Homo sapiens: one gene and its partners. The protein of the gene in region 1 interacts with the protein of each later gene in a biochemical or structural test. Each region holds a gene or a part of one and is shown in the gene's direction. Other genes may lie near its edges.

Evidence for each region. The genes of interacting proteins can lie anywhere in the genome.
Region 2: the proteins of TANC1 (region 1) and PTPN3 interact in a test that uses a peptide from one of them, tested with the Homo sapiens proteins (one large-scale study listed by IntAct).
Region 3: the proteins of TANC1 (region 1) and FRMPD4 interact in a test that uses a peptide from one of them, tested with the Homo sapiens proteins (one large-scale study listed by IntAct).
Region 4: the proteins of TANC1 (region 1) and DLG3 interact in a test that uses a peptide from one of them, tested with the Homo sapiens proteins (one large-scale study listed by IntAct).

Annotation. Positions count from the first base shown.
Region 1 is NC_000002.12:159,177,016-159,182,356, forward strand, and holds part of TANC1 (protein TANC1), read left to right. Parts: intron 1-1,540; coding exon 1,541-2,148; intron 2,149-5,341. UniProt on the Homo sapiens protein: May be a scaffold component in the postsynaptic density.
Region 2 is NC_000009.12:109,406,890-109,411,369, reverse strand, and holds part of PTPN3 (tyrosine-protein phosphatase non-receptor type 3), read left to right. Parts: intron 1-954; coding exon 955-1,141; intron 1,142-1,293; coding exon 1,294-1,371; intron 1,372-2,992; coding exon 2,993-3,049; intron 3,050-4,480.
Region 3 is NC_000023.11:12,141,411-12,145,890, forward strand, and holds part of FRMPD4 (FERM and PDZ domain-containing protein 4), read left to right. Parts: intron 1-4,480. UniProt on the Homo sapiens protein: Positive regulator of dendritic spine morphogenesis and density. Required for the maintenance of excitatory synaptic transmission. Binds phosphatidylinositol 4,5-bisphosphate.
Region 4 is NC_000023.11:70,496,773-70,501,252, forward strand, and holds part of DLG3 (disks large homolog 3), read left to right. Parts: intron 1-407; coding exon of another isoform or gene 408-449; intron 450-1,747; coding exon 1,748-1,798; intron 1,799-2,403; coding exon 2,404-2,505; intron 2,506-3,104; coding exon 3,105-3,277; intron 3,278-3,698; coding exon 3,699-3,808; intron 3,809-4,125; coding exon 4,126-4,217; intron 4,218-4,480. UniProt on the Homo sapiens protein: Required for learning most likely through its role in synaptic plasticity following NMDA receptor signaling.

The DNA of each region.
Region 1 (5,341 bases):
TCTCCTGCCTTGGCCTCCGGAGTAGCTGGGATTACAGGCATCTGCCACCATGCCCAGCTAATTTTTGTATTTTTAGTAGAGACGGATTTTCACCATGTTGGCCAGGCTGGTCTCCAACTCCTGACCTCAGGTGATCCACCCACCTTGGCCTCCCAAAGTGCTGGGATTACAGGCATGAGCCACTGTGCCTGGCTGAAGGTGAAACATTTTTAAGGCCTATTCCCAGAGGTCTATTTTTTCACAAAACTTAAGCATGAGGTAACATTTGCAGCGAGGGGTAGGGTGATTTTTTTTTTCTCCTCCATCTTCTTCCTCACTTAAACCCTGAAATTGTGTCTTAACCATTGACTCCTTCTATACCTATCCTTTTTCAGTGAAGACTTTTAGACATTAGGTTTTGATTTTTGCCCTTTTATGATATTTATTTAAAAACAGCATTTGGAATTTTTTCATTATAAAAACTGAAATTAGACCTCAGTTGAACTTGATGCGTGTTTTTTGGACATTCAGTTTGTATATTTTTCAGTCATTTTTTACATAGTAAGCACAATTTGTCCATCAGTAGATCATAGGAACCAGGAATCTTACGTTCTTCTTCCCAGCTGTGTAAGTTTTCAGAGCTTCAGATAGCATCCATGTAAAATGGGAATAATTGTATTCTGCCCTCTTTATCTACATTGTTATATTAAATGAGCACGTGCATTTAAATACTTCAGAAACAATAGTGGGAAGTCTTTTTAAAAAGGCAAAACTCTTCTTTGCTTTTAGGTGTCAGATGTGCTTAATCTTTGGAATGGGGAAGAGATGGGAAGGGCACATGAGGCTTCTGGGAGCTGAGGATGTTTTGTTTCTGGGTGCTGGTTACATAGGTATATTTGACTTAGTGAAAATTAGTGACACTGTGCAATTGTCATTTGTACACAAATCATATGTTCATTGTTAGACTTCAATTTAAAAGTTTACTTTAAAAAAGCAATTCATAAAATAACGTGCTATACCAAAGTAGGCAGCTTTGTTAAGATGCGCTGTCGTTGAGACACAGCCCAGGGGCAGACTCAGATTTCCTGATTGGGTTACACAGCCCCAGTGTTTGCTGCATAAAGAAGGATGTCTTTTATCTTGGCGTCTGGCCGTGTTCTTAGATGTGCAGTGTTGGTTGGTGTTTGTCCTTGTTATATAAGCAGTTTCACAGTGTAAGGATTATGGGTATCAGGTCACCTGCAGAGTCTCACTGCCCTTACTGGCCCTGGCCTCGTTGCCGCTGTCTGCACAGGGCTCTTACTCTGCTTGCTAGGCTCAGGGTCCTTGGATGAGGGCCTCAGGATAGCACTTACTGATTCCATCTCCCATCAGGATTTCTTTCACATAAGCTTTTTATCTTCACCTTATCCTATTACACGTTTTAATACAAAACAATGAGTCCCTGTAATCCATGAAAATCCTCCTTGAAACAAAACTAGTGAATCTGGTTTAAAATGCTGTTAAAATAAAAAAGGAATCTCTTTAGAGTGACACTGTGGGTTTTTGTTTTCTCCCCCAGGAAATCATAAGTGCGCTGCCATTTGTCAAGCTTTCCTTAGATGACTTCCCAGACAACAAAGACATCCACAGTGACCTGCACGCCTACGTCCAGCACAGGGTGCACAGCAGCCAGGACATCCTCAGCAACATCTCCCTGAATGGCAAGGCCGATGCCACACTCATTGGAAAAGTGAGCAGCCACCTGGTGCTGCGGAGCCTCGGCTCCTACCTGTACCTCAAGCTCACCCTGGACCTTTTCCAGAGGGGCCACTTGGTCATTAAGAGTGCCAGCTACAAGGTGGTGCCCGTGTCTCTCTCTGAGCTCTATTTGCTTCAGTGCAACATGAAGTTCATGACCCAGTCCGCCTTTGAGAGGGCACTTCCGATTCTCAACGTGGCCCTCGCATCCCTCCACCCCATGACAGACGAGCAGATCTTTCAGGCTATTAATGCTGGCCACATCCAGGGGGAGCAGGGATGGGAAGACTTTCAGCAGAGGATGGACGCCCTCTCCTGCTTCCTCATTAAGAGGCGAGACAAAACCCGCATGTTCTGCCACCCGTCCTTCAGGGAGTGGCTTGTATGGAGAGCAGACGGGGAAAACACGGCCTTCCTGTGTGAGCCCAGGTACGGCAGGCGCTTTCTTTCAGCTCTTTGCAGGGAATCTCGTGTGCAGTTGGGGAAAGGATTTAAATGTGATGCACGTGTCTCAATGGAAGGGCAATCCAGAATGACTAATTCAGTGTTACTGCTTTGTTTTATTATTTTTCTTCCTTTTTGGCAGAAGGATGGGCAATGGGGAATTCTCTATACAGAAGCTGCCTTCTAATTGCTAGGACTCCCTTATGGATGGTACATGTGGATAAAAGAGAAGCTGGGTGGTGCCTGTGTGGTCCTTCCTTACTGTCCATTGTCTCATGGAGCCCCGTCTCCTCCCCCACCCAGCTTCTGCAGGATCATGCATGGGAATGTGTGAGATCAGCCCCTGGGAACAGGGGGCTTCTCTAGAGGGAGTTCCCTGTGTGTCTGCAGACTGTCATGGGTCCTCAGCACCTCCACTCCCCTGCCACCCCTTGAACATGGAGTGACTTGTCCCAGGGATCAGGTATATCTGTGAGCCCAGAGGGAGCACCATGATCCAATCTAGCCTCCCCGCTCCACACCCTTCACCCTTTGTGGATGAGCTCTGTGTGGTGGACTGGACCAGGCTGGGATGCAGTTCTCCTTGCTGCCTGGGCCGCTGTTATCACAGTGGGATGGGGAAGGAAGCCTGTCTGCTGTGTGGCTTGGTAACAGTGTGAGAGGTCAGAAAGTTTGAGGATGCAGATGCGTTCAGATATGTATATGGCAAGCCCCCAACTTCCACTTGGCCCTGGCTTTGGCCTGTGTCTCTGCTGTCTCGAGTGGCTTCGGCTATCTGTGAGCCAGAATTGCCCCCTGCTGTAGTAACAGGGCTGGCAAGCTGCTCAGCTGACCCCTTAGGCATTTGACCAGATGCTGGGATCCAGAAATGAAGAGGTGAACAAGCATTGGTGAGCCCTGGGAGCCTCACAGCCACTTTCCTCCCTGTGAATATTGACTGAACATCCACCTGATAGGCCTGGCTGCTGTTCATGTTGGGGCTGTTATTATTTTCTTCAGTAACACTGGCTGAAGGTTTGTTGTTATCTTTTGAACCTGGTTTGGGGCAATAAACTAACATCCAGGTTATTTAGCCAGACCATAATAGCTAGGTGAAACATGTGCTGTGACATTTCTAGCCAAGTCAGATTACTTTCTAGGGAAATTCCAGTCATTTTCTAGGAAGATTGACTATAGCTGAGTTTGTAGAGACATAAAAACAAATTGAAAGACTCCATCAGGAGTGTAGGTTGTTACTGGGTTGGAGGCTAAAGTGGCTGGACTGTAGTCTTCATTAAGCTTCGCTTCATTTTGGGTATTGGTGGGCATTGAGGTTATGTAGCCTAGGTCAGAGCTAGGGTGGGTGCCTGTGGGCTCCTGAATGCCACTGTGTTCTTAAAAGCAGGCATGGGGACATCCCCTGGGGCAGGACCTGGACTAGGTGGAGGCAAGAGAGGTACCAAGGGTGCAGAATTTAAGGAAGCACCCACTCCTGGGTGGTGCGAGTTGTTGCCATTTTCCCAAGACACCTGTAGTATTTGAGCTTCATTCAATTGAGAGGATATAGAACAATGTTGGAAGGAAGCTACTGGATTCAGTTCAGCAACAGTTTTTGTTATATGCAGTTATGTGCAAAGTACTGTGGCAGACACCAATTGTTGGGACAAGGACCCTGCTCTCAGGGCTTCCCACACAGGGCAGGGGAGGCAGGAGGTGATATGCGAGAGGGAGGCACACTTCATGTGGACCTCACAAGAGGGAGAAGCTCCCAGCGTAAGTAAAGGGGCCTGGGGAGGTGATTTTAAAACATGGTGATGGTGGGTTGGGCCTCGAAAAATGGTAGCATTTCTTCCCCAACTCCCAGTTGTCGTATTTTTGCCCTAATTATAAAAGCAGAAAATTTCAACCCTCAGACAAAGACAGTTCATTTTTTATTTCTGCCTCTTTCTGTAGCATTTTAAATGATATACCAATCTTCTTTTTCTCTTGGAATTCTTATCTGGGTTTTTGCTTAACACATCACGGGCACCTTACTAAGCTGTTAGAAGTCTTAGAAAAGTGTCATTTTCATTTTTCATGGTTGTGCAAAACTCCTAGGAGGCAAATTATTATGTACTTCACTATACCCTCATTGGATTTTTTTGCTTTTTTTTTTTTTCAGACGGAGTCTCGCTGTCGCCCAGGCTAGAGTGCAGTGGTGTGATCTCAGCTCACTGCAGGCTCCGCCCCCTGGGGTTCACACCATTCTCCTGCCTCAGCCTTCCCACGTAGCTGGGACTACAGGCGCCCGCCACCTCATCCGGCTAACTTTTTGTATTTTTAGTAGAGACGGGGTTTCACCGTGTTAGCCAGGATGGTCTCAATCTCCTGACCTCGTGATCCGCCCGCCTCGGCCTCCCAGAGTGCTGGGATTACAGGCGTGAGCCACTGCGCCCGGCCCCCTCGTTAGATTTTTAAGTTGTTTCTAAATTACTTACAAACAGAACAACCTGTCATGTCTTGGTGCCTTGCAGGTCTGGATTCAAATCTTCCATTGATTCTTGTATATTTTTCTCTGCATGAAATATATTTTAATTCTCCATGCCTTCCTTCCTTATCTATAAAAAATGAGTGTCTTCTCACTGAGTGCTGGTAGCTATTAAATCAGATCTTAAGACGATGTACTACCTCTCTTCTTTCCTTTCTTCTCTCTTAGTTTTGATTATGCCCTAGGTTAGCATTCCAGAAATAGAATTATGAAGATAAAGAATAGTTTGAGTCTGGCCGGGTGCGGTGGCTTACGTGCGTAATCCTAGCACTTTGGGAGGCAGAGATGGGTGGATCACCTGAGGTCAGGGGTTCGAGACCAGCCTGGCCAACATGGTGAACCCAGTCTCTACTAAAAATACAAAAAAAAGAAAAATTAGCCGGGTGTGGTGGCAAGCACCTGTAATCCCAGCTGCTTGGGAGGCTGAGGTAGGAGAATTGCTTGAACCCAGGAGGCGAAGGTTGCAGTGAGTCGAGATCGTGCCACTACACTCCAGCCTGGGCAACAAGAACAAAACTGTCTCAAAAAAAAAGAAAGAGTTTTCATTCATATCACCTAGACTTAAACATATTTACATTTTGCAATATTTGCTACATCTGTTTCCTTTTTTTTTGTTGAAGTATGTTAAATTGTAAACATGACATTTTACTTTAAATAACTGAATATTCATCT
Region 2 (4,480 bases), on another chromosome or scaffold:
GGAGAGGGAAGAAAGGCTTAGGACGCACATCGGTCAGGTTTCTGTCTGCTAAGCCGGGGGAAAGCCATGTGACCCTGGGCAAGTTACTCAGCCTCTCCTGACCTCAGCTTCTTCATCTGTGAACTGGGAGTTAGAACAAATGACCACAAAGTTCTGTTCCGTTTTCATCATCTGTAACTCTCTAAGACAGCGCTGTCCAGCAGGACTTCCTGCCGTGGTGAAATGTTCTCTGACTGCACTGTCTCATACGGGAGCCACTGGCCGCATATGGCTAGTGAGCATGTGAAGTATGGCTGGTTTCTTGTCTTAATTTATTTAAATTTAAGTAGCCACATATAACTAGTGGCTACCATACTAGACAGTGCAGCTCCACGATACAGAAGAAACTATATTCGATAGAGGAAAATGTAACAAGATCTCAGCGTGGCAGTTCATGGATGTCACAGGCAAATCATGCCAACTAGGAATAATATAAATTCTCCTGAACGCACAACAACAACAGTCCTGTTTCCTTTGAGGAGGCAAGAGTCCTATGAAGCAGAACCATCCGCAGAAGTGAGACAGAAGGAAAAAAGCTTTCAGAAGGGATGGGCTGTGCATCTGCATGAGCTTGCCTGGCAGAGCCTGGTTCAGTAATGAAACCACCAGAGGAGCTGGACACATTTCCCTGTCACCCTTCTAAAGCAGCGGGGAAGGGAGCAAAGTTTTCAGCAGTTTCCAGATCCACCCTGCCTCCTATCCCTTTTCCCCAAAACCATGTGACAGTGTCTAGGCCAGATGCGGTCAGGGGTGGTCAGTGGGCCCTGGGTGTACTCAAATCCCGCTGACAACCTATGCAGCTGAGGTTCCAGGGAAACATACAGCCCCCAGCTGCCAGGCCCCTACAGTCAGTAGTGTTTGCTCTAATAAAATATTAACCCAGTTATTAATATCTCCTCCTTCCCCATGATGAAGGAGTTTATCCGAGAACAATCCGGCACAAAGCTACCTGACCCAGAAGTCATCCAGTTCTGTGTCTCCATCTTCAAATGCTCCAGGCTCCTGCTCACCTGACGGCGTTGATCAGCAGCTCTTAGATGACTTCCACAGGGTGACCAAAGGGGGCTCCACCGAGGACGCCAGCCAGTACTACTGTGACAAGGTGAGCGAGCGCAGGCAGCCGGGTGATCCACACACCCAGGGCTTCCCGGCCTCTTGTGGGCAGCTGAGTAGCTCTAACTAAATGAAAATATCTTATCACCAACTGCTGGAGAGAGATGTGATGCAAATGACCACTTTCAAACCGTTTTCCAGAATGATAATGGTGACAGCTACTTAGTCTTGATCCGTATCACACCAGATGAAGATGGAAAATTTGGATTTAATCTTAAGGTATGTTGTGTATTTATAAAGGAAGTTTTGTGCTGGGAAGCAATCTTTCAATGAGTTTTTAATTTGCATTACAAATGTGCTGCATTCCTGAGCTACATAAGGAAGTTGGTTCAACCCTCAGAATTGAGAGTTGGGGGTTTTTTTTGTTTTTGTTTGGTTTGAGATATTTGGGGTTTTTTTTGTTTTTTTTTAAAAACTCACTTTATCGCCCAAACCTAGAGTGCAGTGGCACGATCGCAGCTCACTGCAGCGCTGACCTCCCCAGGCTCAGGTGATCCTCCCACCTCAGCTGGGACTATAGGGATGCACCACCATACCCAGCTAATTTTTTTCATATTTTTTGTAGAGATGGGGTTTCACCATGTTGTCCAAGCTGGTCTCAAACACCTGGCAATCTACTCACTTTGGCCTCCCAAAGTGCCGGGATTACAGGCGTGAACCACCGCACCCAGCCTAGAATTGAGAGGTTTTTTTTAATGTGGCCTTAACAGCTGCCGAAGGCCAAGTGCCTGCTCTGTGCCTGGCATTGGCTATCCACTAGATTCATAGCACCTTCTTAAGTTCTGATAACAAGTGGTAAGGTCAGTATTTTTAAACCCATTTTGCAAATGAATACTGAGGTTCCCAGAAATGAGGGCACACAGTTGGCAAACAGATCTACCCACTTCAGGAATGCTATTAAGAGAACCCCTCAGCATTGCTAAAGCTGATAAGAGAAAAACAATTCAAGTTCAACCTGCAGGGCCACCACTCTCCTCCAGGCACCTTTAAGCAGGATCTGCAAACTAAACCCACAGGCCAAATCCCATCTGTTTCTGTAACTAGTTTTTTTGGTAACAGCCACAGCCATTTGTTTACTGGTGGGTTAATGACTGCAGAGTTGAGCAGTTGAATCAGAGCCCTCACTCCCACAAAGCCTCTCTGGCCCTTTACAGAAAACGTTTACTCATCCCTACTCTAGGACAAAGTGAGGGCAGGTGGTCGCCTACCCCCCAGCTGCCATCATGCACAGCCTCATCTGCCCCAGCAGCTGTGTTGAGGACCAGCGCTCACAGGCCAGATGCGCTCACAGGGTGTGCCCCCTTCCCAGGCCTCGCTCGCCTCTGCTGAAAGCCCCTATATATATATATATAAAGCCCATATATATATATATTAAAGCCCATATATATATATAAAGCCCATATATATATATATATATATATTTTTTTTTTTTTTTTAATTATTATAAGTTCTAGGGTACATGTGCACAACGTGCAGGTTTGTTCTAGCAGCACTCGAAGACATGCTGTGGAGTCCCTCTCTGGGGGCATCTGCGTTTTTAAGGAGGAGCTTCTCTCTGAGTGTATCTGTTAGTTCATGGACTGTGGGGATGGCAGAGGGAGGCTTCTGAACAGAGTCCTGGTCAGCCCGCTGGATCCAGAGGGGTCAGGAATTTGTTCCATATTTCTGAAATGACGTGTGATTCGAATCAGTCATAGTGAAGTTTGAAGCCTCCCTGTACCAAAGACTCACATTTATTGGTACCTCCATGTTGTTGATGCTGTGAGCTACTCGTTTTTTTGTTTGTTTGTTTGTTTAACTTAAAAAACTTTGTTTTGTTTTTATTTTAAAATGTTTACAGGGAGGAGTGGATCAAAAGATGCCTCTTGTGGTATCAAGGATAAACCCAGAGTCACCTGTAAGTAAATACATTCCATGTTATTCCTCGTGTTTGTTTGTTTCCCCCTAATTCTAACAGGTTTCTGTTTCTGAGTCCTGTTTCTTTTTTTGCCAGAGCAAAGAATGTGCTTAGATATACATCACCATGTTTTCTATAACCTTGCGGCTCAGTGTGGTCTTTGAAGCCATAGCACCCATGTTACCTGGGACCTCATTAGAAATGCAGCATCTCTGGCCTCAGCTTAGGCCTGCTGAACCGGAATCTGCATTTTTAACAAGAGCCTTGAGTGGTTAGTGTGCATTCAATTTTGAGAAGTCCTTTTCAAGAGAAGGAAACTTAGGCAGTCTGCTGTTCTGCTCACTCTAAGTGGGCACGTGGGCCCTGTGCCTCTTCTCACCATCTTTCCACCAGTGCCCCTTTTGTCATCTGTGTAGGCCTCCTAAGAAGAGCATTTGCTTTGTTTTTCTTTCAAATTTATTTTATTGTTTTTAGGCCAGGCATAGTGGCTCACACCTGTAATCCCAGCACTTTGGGAGGCCGAGGAGGGTGAATCACTTGAGGCCAGGAGTTTGAGACCAACCTGCCTGGCCAACAGGGTGAAACCCATCTCTACAAAAAATACAAAAATTATCTGGGTGTGGTGGCACACAGGTGTGATCCCAGCTACTCAGGAGGCTGAGGCAGGAGAATTCCTTGAACCCAGGAGGCAGAGGTTGCAGTGAGCTGAGATCACGCCGCTGTACTCCAGCCTGAGCGACAGAGTGAGACTCTGTCTCAAAAATAAAATAAATTTATTTTATTGTTTTTAAAATAATATCAAGTAATTTTTTCGTTTAATTTTTTTATTGTGCATACTCAAGGTGTACAACATGATGTCTTGTTATACATATAGTACTGCAGTCAAACAAATTAACATGTTCATCACTTTCCATAGTTAACCTATTTTTCTTTTTTAAGAGACAGGGTCTCGCTCTTGCTCTGTCACCCAGGCTGGAATGCAGTGGTATGATCACTGCAGCCTCAAACTAGGCTCAAGCGATCCTCCTGCCTCTGCCTCCCAAGTCGCTGAGACCACAGGTGTGTCCCACCTCACCTGGCTCCATAGTTACCTTTTAATCATCTGCTTTTTTAAAGCAGTAGGAGTCACTGTGCCTCCTTACAGTGAACCACGTTGGGATTTTACTCTGAGGTAGTCCTTAAGCTCTTGTCATTTAACTTTTGTTACTGTTTACAGTTTCTGTAAATTCAGAAGGCTTTCTTTCCTGTGCTGTTCAATTCATTGCTTCTCTCCATAATGGTTTTTGCCTCTGTTGTGAAGCTTACAAAAGCTTTCACCTTTGCAAGACAGATAAATACTCACCTCTAGCTGGCAAATCATTTCCTAACAGTACATCTAGGAAACAAAAGGCTGGAAATGGTATAGTTATATTATAATAAGTGAAGGTTGAC
Region 3 (4,480 bases), on another chromosome or scaffold:
CAGTGTAATTACAGAGAATTCCAAGAGAATATTATTCGACACTGGAATAAATAAACTGCATATTTTGACTTTTTAGAGTGTCTACATTTAACTATTCGTTTCCAGAATCTATACCCTTTTAATCGTGGGAAAAATCAGAATTGACAGTGCCCCTCAATAACCCAGTACCATTAAAAAAAAATTGCTGCCAAGTGTTGGAATTGCTGGTAAGTAGTTGGCACCCTTTACATCATCAGTTAGAGTTATGACCCTTGATTGCATCCTTCGTGGGTGGCACAGTGTGTCATGGTTCTATCTGAAGATGGTTTTTCCCGTTCTTCTAATTTTCTGGTTCTTAAACTGCTTGATAGTTTACATGCAGTTTTACTTCACTGTTTCCTTGGTAACAGTTCTATATTATTTTCCATCCTTGTAGATGAGAGCATTACAGATGATTGCCTTATAAACCAGTAATAGTATAAAAACAGGCATATATTTTTATTGTTACTGCTCTTTGTATTGACTATTTTATTTGTAAAGCAGATGCATTCTTTCAAATGTTTATAGAAGAATGCAGTCCAGTAGAAAAACATATGATTATGCCCCTTTTGCCAGAGGGAGATGATTTGAGATCCAAAACTCATAGGGATGTTATTAAATTGAGTGATATGTTCATAGATTAAGTCCCTGATTTGGCTTCTTTTCTTTAAGCAAAACGGTAGACTTGATGATAATGATTGAGTCCCCACTGTTGATATGATGATTTCTTATAGTAGTAGGTAAATTTGGGGAATGCTTTACTTTGCATTTTCTTATAGTTGCATGGGTTATTTTGTGGTATATAGCAGTGACTAATATCTAATATTAGAATGCTAATTTTCTTACAAGTATCTTATATTTGAGGAAAAATACAAAATACATATGTATAGTTTCCTTAGATTTTTATGTCAAGTCCATTTAGATACTACTAAACTTCTGTCTTTTACCTTTATCTTATTCAGAATTAAATATTTCCCAGGGAAAAGGGGAAGTTAAAGAAGTAATGCAAAAGGTCAGGGTTTTTCCCATATCCCCTATTTTTACTGAGTAATTGTATTAATATTGCTGATAATAGTGAGCTCTGGAGGCTAGCAATGAAAAAACCCCAAAGACTCTGGATTTGAATTTTATTAAAAATGCTACTTGCTCATCTTCTGAATCCTTTCTAAGTTCTGCTGATTTTTGTGACTGTCAGGAGGTGAAATGATGAACAGTTTCATAACAGAACTAGATTCCTGTTTTAGGAATATTTAACTCTAGTTTCCCAAGAGTTGCTAGTTTGAAGCTGTGAAAGTCTAGTCGCTCGCAGTTCTGGGAAGAAGGCGTCTAGGTCAGGCTTTGTACCATTTCAAGCATCTCTCTCTCTCTCTCTTATTGTCTGGGGCAAGTGAGTTTCACCTTCTTGCTATCAGAATTTGGTACAGACTGACAGCTGCAGTGAAACTTACTTGTACTTTAAATGCATGACCTGGAAAGTCTCACTTTCTGCTTATGGTCCTTCCAGCTGTTCATTCTCCCCCTTTACATACACATACACTGTTCAACTTTAGTACTTTGTTATTTCATTTGAGGTTAACCGTGGAAGTTTAGCTGTAAGAGAATGTACATTATTGGTGAACTAGAAATGTATCTTTAAGGAATGAACTTGAAACCACTGGTTTCACACTTGGCTCAATAAGAAAACTCAAGACCGTTTAAAATCTTTGTTTAAGCATACCGTCCTGAAATCTACCACTGTTACCATCAAATGATCTTTAATCTTGAAAGCTAATCATAGCAGGAAAAGAAAATTATGAATAGGCTAAAACAGGGGTTGGCATACTGTGGCCTATGAGCCAAATCTGGCTTGCTGACTGTTATGGCATAGCCTGTGAGCAAAGAATGGTTTCTTTATTTTTAAATGGTTCAAAAATATCAAAAAAAGAATAATATGAAATTAAAATTTCAGTGTCCATAAATAAAGTTTTATTGGAACACATGTCCATTCATTTATGTATTATCTATGGCTGCATTTGCCTGACAACAGCAAAGTTGAATAGATGCCACAGAGACCTTATGGCCTACAAAGCCTAAAATATTTACTCTCTGGCTCTTTACAGAAAAAGTTAACTGACCCCTGGGTTAAACAATGCCTTTTTCCTGTTTTCTCTTCTTTATCATTAGCAGCACACATGTGGGCACACACATGTCAAATCGAGCATATTATAATAAATACTTGAATTCACTGACCCCTGGGTTAAACAATGCCTTTTCCTGTTTTCGCTTCTTTATCATTATCAGCACACATGCGGGCACACACGTCAAATTGAGCATATTATAATAAATACTTGAATTCACTAATGCACATTACCAGTTAATATAGACCTTATCTTTATTGAAACTTCTGATCTCAAATTACTTCTTGAACTGTTGGAAACTGACCATTAGAAGTGGACATAATTGTCCTACTAATTTGTTGCACTTGGAAAAATTATGCATGCTTATTCTTTGGTCACTAAGTTGACCTGATATTTTTGGGGAGCTGGAGAGTTGCTTGTTAAGGTGATGTTTGCCTTCCATAAATATCCAGTTCAAAATGTATGGAAAAAGAATGGGTGATACTACTTGTATAGCCTCAACCAATGTGTGCTGGTGAACTGATAATCAAGTCAACAGGAGAATGCCTAGTATTTCCTTACAGTACACTTGAGCCATCTGGTCCTAATGGCTAATGACCTTCACTAATCTGTTTCCAAATGGAAATAAAACCAGATAAGTGGATTTAGTTGTAGTCAGAGGAATGGAGGTAGGCTGTATCAATTTGGAGTTGAGTTTAATCTAACTTTCCTATGATTTGACTGAGAGCATTATAATGAGAAATCATAGACTACCTTTAGTTCTTTACAGCAAAAACATATATCAAAAGTATGCTGCCTTGCTTCTGAGTAATTTAGGTCATTATGTACTTAAGCTCTGAAAATTATCTTGAAGAAATCTAAGCCTTAGTTTTAGATAACAAAGTTAACATTCCCATTTTTTTTTTTTTCCTGGCAAAGAGATGAGAAGGGTTTTCTGCCAGAACTGTTCTTTCAGAAATATATTTTCAAGTATGGTTTACAGAATTTGGCATAAGATAAATAGTCTATACTAAATAATTAGTGAGTGAAGTCATATACAATTCATTCTAACATTTGTTGCAAACAAATTGTCATATTTGTTTAGCTGAACAATTACCATGTCAGTACTTCTTTATTGAATATAACGGAATACAATGTACATGTTAAAAGTAAATAGCCTGCTCTTGGACTTGGTCTCAGAGAATAAACTTTTATTTCTGTTTTTACATTTGAAGTATATATATATTATATATATAAAATATAATATATATATTTGGTGATTGATGGTTAAAAAGTCATCAACTTGTATTTCCAAGGAGTCTCTGTTTTACTGCTTTAAGCTCAATAAGCAAAGTTATGATGATATTGAAATGGGTTTTTATAGATGTCAGTAAGTTTTTATTTTAGAAAGTCTTTTTTGAAAGCTAGGAAAACACAATCATTTCTATGAAAGAAATGTTTCCAAAGTTTGAAAATGAAAAGTAATTTCCCTGCAATTACAATTTACTATAGGGTTTTAATTTTTATTTTGGTTATTTTTTATAGGCTTCACAAGTTTTATGAGATTTGCTTAATTGAAAATAAGAACATGATTACCTGACAAAGATGAGGTTCAAAGAAAGCAGTAGGCAAAAGTTCATAAAATTAATGGTAAAATTTTCCTAATGAATGTAGGAATGAGTGTATTTTTCTATTGAACTGGCACAGTTATTTATCTGGTCAGAGACTGGTGTGGGGGAGAACACGCGGCCATCTGGCTGATTCAAGGCTGTTGTATTGATTCAACATTGGATAACATACTGACCATGGTGATTTTACAATGGTTCCTGTAACTGGAGTCCTGGATATTTGTCTCTTTTGAAGTTCACGATCCAAGTCACCGGTCTTTACCCTAGTACAGGAGCAGTTAGCAGTCTCAGCTATACAGTGGTGGAGTCTGGAATTAGTTTTGGTGTAAATCCCAAACATGCCCAACTGAATTGTGGCTCAGGGCGATGTCCTGCTTCATGGCCTAGGGCCAGGGCTGGCAAACTTAACCCATCTGATGTGTTTACTTATTTTAGAAAGCTTTATGACCATTTTTATAAATAAAGTTTTATTTAAACACAGCCATGCCCTTTTGTTTGTATACTGTGGCTGCTCTTGGGAGAGTTGGATAGCTGTGACAGAAACCACATGGCTTGCAAAGCCTAAAATATTTACTCTCTGCCCTTTACATGGGTATTTTACTGTTCTTCTTTGATCTCTCTGCCCAGTACTCAAATTTCCCTTTGGGGCAGTCTGGGTGTCAGCCTTCTTTACTAGCAGGGGGAAGGATGGATATGGTTGGAGATTCACCCTGAACACAGTCACCCTTGCCAGCCCCG
Region 4 (4,480 bases), on another chromosome or scaffold:
GGGCGGGGGACACCCATGAGCAGACTGGTCCCTGGACTTCTCTTTGCTCCTGTCACTGTCTTTTCTTTCCTGTTGTTAGCCTTGGGAGATGCATTTTGAAATACGATTTGGAAACCATCCAGGTCAATTTGATTCAGATGAAGAGGATGCTGCTGAAGGAAGTATGGCTTGTAGTACATAGGGAGGGACTTGGCAGACCAAGAGGGCTCTGGGGACAAGTACGAGAGGGCCAGGGGCTCAGGATTGGAGCTGTGCCTCCCAGTTGGTAGCCTGGATGTGGCAGGCCTCTGGTGGCCTGACTCAGTTGGCAGCTCAGTGTCTCGCTCCTGGAGCATTTGAGTTTTGTGCTGCATGTGACCTCTCAGTGGTGTGTTCTGAATTGGAGTCTCTTTCTTGTTGGCTTGCAGAGGGAGTGACATCCAACACCAGTGACAGCGAAAGCAGTTCCAGTAAGTGTGTGTCATTCCTTCCATGTCGTGTAGCTCCACTGTGTATCCCAGCCATCCTCATTCCAGTGTTGCACAGCTGCCATTGCTGCTCAGAGGCTGGTGCTTCTTTTAGCCATGTACACTTTGAGATCCTAGAAATGCTGTGGCCAGTTCATTCTCCTTATGGGTTGGGGTTCACCCCATGGATTAAAGGAGAGTATAAGCCCTATAGTGCTGGCCGGGACCTGACTTAAAAGCATCCCTGGCACTGGGAAGGGTAAACTGCCAAAGAGTAAATCCCTGCCATGGGTACTGTGGGCCATAGGTGCTGCCAGGTTTATAGATTTGCTCAGAGACCAAAAGAAAAATGGCTCCTCTAGGACACTGCCCTAAATCTGCCTTTCCAGGTCATTAGGACCTCTTTGCCTTTGGGGCCAGTTAAAGGATGAGGTAATTGCCAAGTTCTCCTTGGGAGATCCTGTGACCAGACCAGAGAAACCGTAATTCAAACCTCATGAACTTTGGGAGCACTGGTTTTTCAGGAGCTATGGTGGCTAGAAGCCTTGTAAAATCTGCCCAGGAATATTAGGCTCAGAAGAAGCCTTTTAGCAAGCATTGTGTGCCTTGATGCAAATATCACTGTTTTCCCTGGGACTGCCATCAGCCACTTTGGGACCTCCAGGCACCCAGCACCGAGTGGCTTGACGACTGTTTTAGGAAAACCTCAACATTGCTAGGCTCGACATGGGGCTCCACCAGGAAGAGACAGCAGGTTCAGCATTGCTCTTAAAGGGCACTGGGGACCTTAGCAGAGCCATGTGCCACTTTTCTGGATGCTGCTTCCAATGCAGGAGGTGGGTTGGTAGACCTTTAAAAGGGCAAAGTTAGGCTGCTTGGGGACCTGGGTGTGTGCCCTGACTCCCCTGCATGTTGATGAAGGGGACTCGGGCAAGCATCTCAACCAGTCAAAGTGTCCCTGTCATTCTTACCAGAGCAAGGGGGCTACTGCACACAGCTGACTTGTTACCTACAAGAAGAGTTCCTCACAAATTGGGGTGGTTTGGGGTGGAGGCTTCATGGCTTCTGGGCCTTGGCCCTTTGCCCAGTGATATTTCACTGAACAAGAGAACTGCTGACTCCTGTCTCAGAGCCAGTGAAGGGTTTCATGTGCTTTCTCACCAGCAGAAAACAGAAAGGATCACAGGTGGTGGCAAGGACCACCTGATAAGGCTGTGTCCTGGCAGGGGAGGGGTACGGGGAGTACTGTACAGAAGGAGGCAGATCATATGGTGCTAACCTATCTCTCTTTTTTGTTGCAGAAGGACAAGAGGATGCTATTTTGTCATATGAGCCAGTGACACGGCAAGAAAGTAAGCCTCCTCTGAGAGCCTTGTCTTCGTGCTGGTCTCCTGGTCGTGGGGCTCAATACAGTGGGTGGCTGTGGCAGCAGAGGGAGGGACCTGGAGGAGGAGGAAGGCTTGACTCATGGCACATCCAGCCCCTGGGCTCCTTCTTCTCTATGCTTCTTCCTAGTGTCATAGGGAAGGGGGTGCATCCAGTGTGCACTTCTCTCTGTGCCTTTGCCTGCTGCCAGGACACCTTCCAAAGGAGGGGGCAAATTTACAAGGAAAGTCTATTTCAGTAGATGTAGCCACTGCTAAAAGAGAGGTCCAGGTTCTTCCCTTCAGTGGCTGCTCTGCAAAAACCTTGCTCAGTTACTGGTGTCAGTGCAGAGATTTTTTCTGACTCTGTTAGAAGGGGAGCAGCTTCCGGTTTCAGACTTGCCTTGAACTTAGATATTCTCAAATTAAAGGCTCTTTGATGTCTTTCTGTTTAAAAGCCAGACAATGTCTGAGGATGCTTTACCCTGTCTGAGTCTCTGCTCCAGAGCCTCTGTGTTCTAGCCAGACTCAGGGGTAGGACAGGCTGTCTGGTGGGGGCCTCTGTTCACTGTCTCGATGCTCTCCCTCTCTAGTTCACTATGCAAGGCCTGTGATCATCCTGGGCCCAATGAAGGACCGAGTCAATGATGACCTGATCTCCGAATTTCCACATAAATTTGGATCCTGTGTGCCACGTAAGAGTCCAGGAAGGCCCAGAGGAGTGAGGCTTGGTGCCCTGGGAATTGTTGCTCTAATGTTTTATGGAAAAGGTCTGGGATCAGATTCTAGGGCTATTTGGGGACAGGGTACATTTGACACGCTGGAAAACAGTAGGTGGCAATATATTCCCCAAAAGCTGATGGGGTTGGAGAGATTAAGCCATCAGGCTTGGCTGCTCACTCTTGAGGGGAAGTTTCAGTGGTGATGGTTGAGAATGATTGGACAAATACGGAGGCCCAGCCAAAGTGGTGTTGATGTGACTCCATTAACAGTTTGTTAGGTTCACTGTCTCCTCTACCAAGTTTGGCACCCTCTGCCATGCTTTAGCTCAGGAAACCCCACCTTTCTAGTCCAGTTTAAGCTAAAGCAAATAGCCCCCTGTGTGAGACCTGGAGATTGGAAGAGAAGTAGGCCAGACAAACCGCTTCCCAACTGCTTGTTTTCTCCCACTTACTTGAAAAAAAAAATGGAGTGGCCCAGTGACCCACCCAGATGAGAATGGACCAGTCAGTATTTTTTGGTTTGGGGCGGATCACTGCCCCTGGGCCACAAAGCATTTCCTTTCTTCCTTCAGATACTACCCGGCCTCGACGTGATAATGAGGTGGATGGACAAGACTACCACTTTGTGGTGTCCCGAGAACAAATGGAGAAAGATATTCAGGACAACAAGTTCATCGAGGCGGGCCAATTTAATGATAACCTCTATGGGACCAGCATCCAGTCAGTGCGGGCAGTTGCAGAGAGGGTAAGTGTACAGGAGATGGCCTCAAAGGGGAGGCCAATGCTTATGCCAAGGTTCCACTTGGATCCTTATCCTTCCAACACAGGAGCTGCCCAACAGTGCTGCTGACCAAAGCCATAGCACATCTGCATACTCCCAGCGCCTTGACGAAGCTATCTGTCTCCTTCATACAACTCACCCCAGAGCATTACCCAACAGGGAATAGGGGGCCCTGGACAGATGTGGCCTTTTCTGGGTAATAGGAGCAAAAAGTAGGGCCTGTCTACTTCAGAGATCGAATTTCTTAGGCCACTTTGGGTGGCCCTCGTGCCCCTCCCCTCACCCCCACCCCCGGCCAAGGTGGATGTTTAGAATGTCACTGGATTTCTGCTTGGGACTTGGTGAATAGGGAGTGGCTGGGCTGTTACAATCTCTGCTTTTTCAGGGCAAGCACTGCATCTTAGATGTTTCCGGCAATGCTATCAAGAGACTGCAGCAAGCACAACTTTACCCCATTGCCATTTTCATCAAGCCCAAGTCCATTGAAGCCCTTATGTAAGTGTTGAACTGAGAACTCAGACACACCAAGCTAAGATCGGGTCTGGAAGGGAAATGGAGAAGAAAGTGATTTGCTGGGCAGAAACTTGAAAGAAACTCTGTGCCCCAGCTCTGGTCACTGGGCGCTCCTGTTTTGAGGGCTTGTGCATATGTTCATGGTTGGACTTTTGAACGCAGGTTTGAGGAGTTAGCTACGGGCCACTGCTGCTCTGAGAGGGCAGCTTAGCAGATTTTTAGGGATCCTGGAATAATCCTTTATGGTTAATCAGAACATAAGATCTGGTTCAGAACTATTTTTCTTCTGTCTTTGGCAGGGAAATGAACCGAAGGCAGACATATGAACAAGCAAATAAGATCTATGACAAAGCCATGAAACTGGAGCAGGAATTTGGAGAGTACTTTACAGGTAAGACTCCTGCTGCCCTGCGGGGGGTTCTGGGGAACTAGCCAGGTACCTGTTTCTATAAGTGTCTCAAAGAGGTGTAGACAGAATGTAGAAACCTTGCACGGAGTTTCCAGTTGCTTTTAAGTTTTTGAGCACAAACCTTTCCAAAGCACACAAGTTCCCCGTGTCCAGCCATAGCAGTTCAGCCAGTTTATAGCATAAACCACTCACCAAATGCTTCCTTGAATTGTTGGTTTGTTCATTTTGTCTTGTCCTTACTAGAT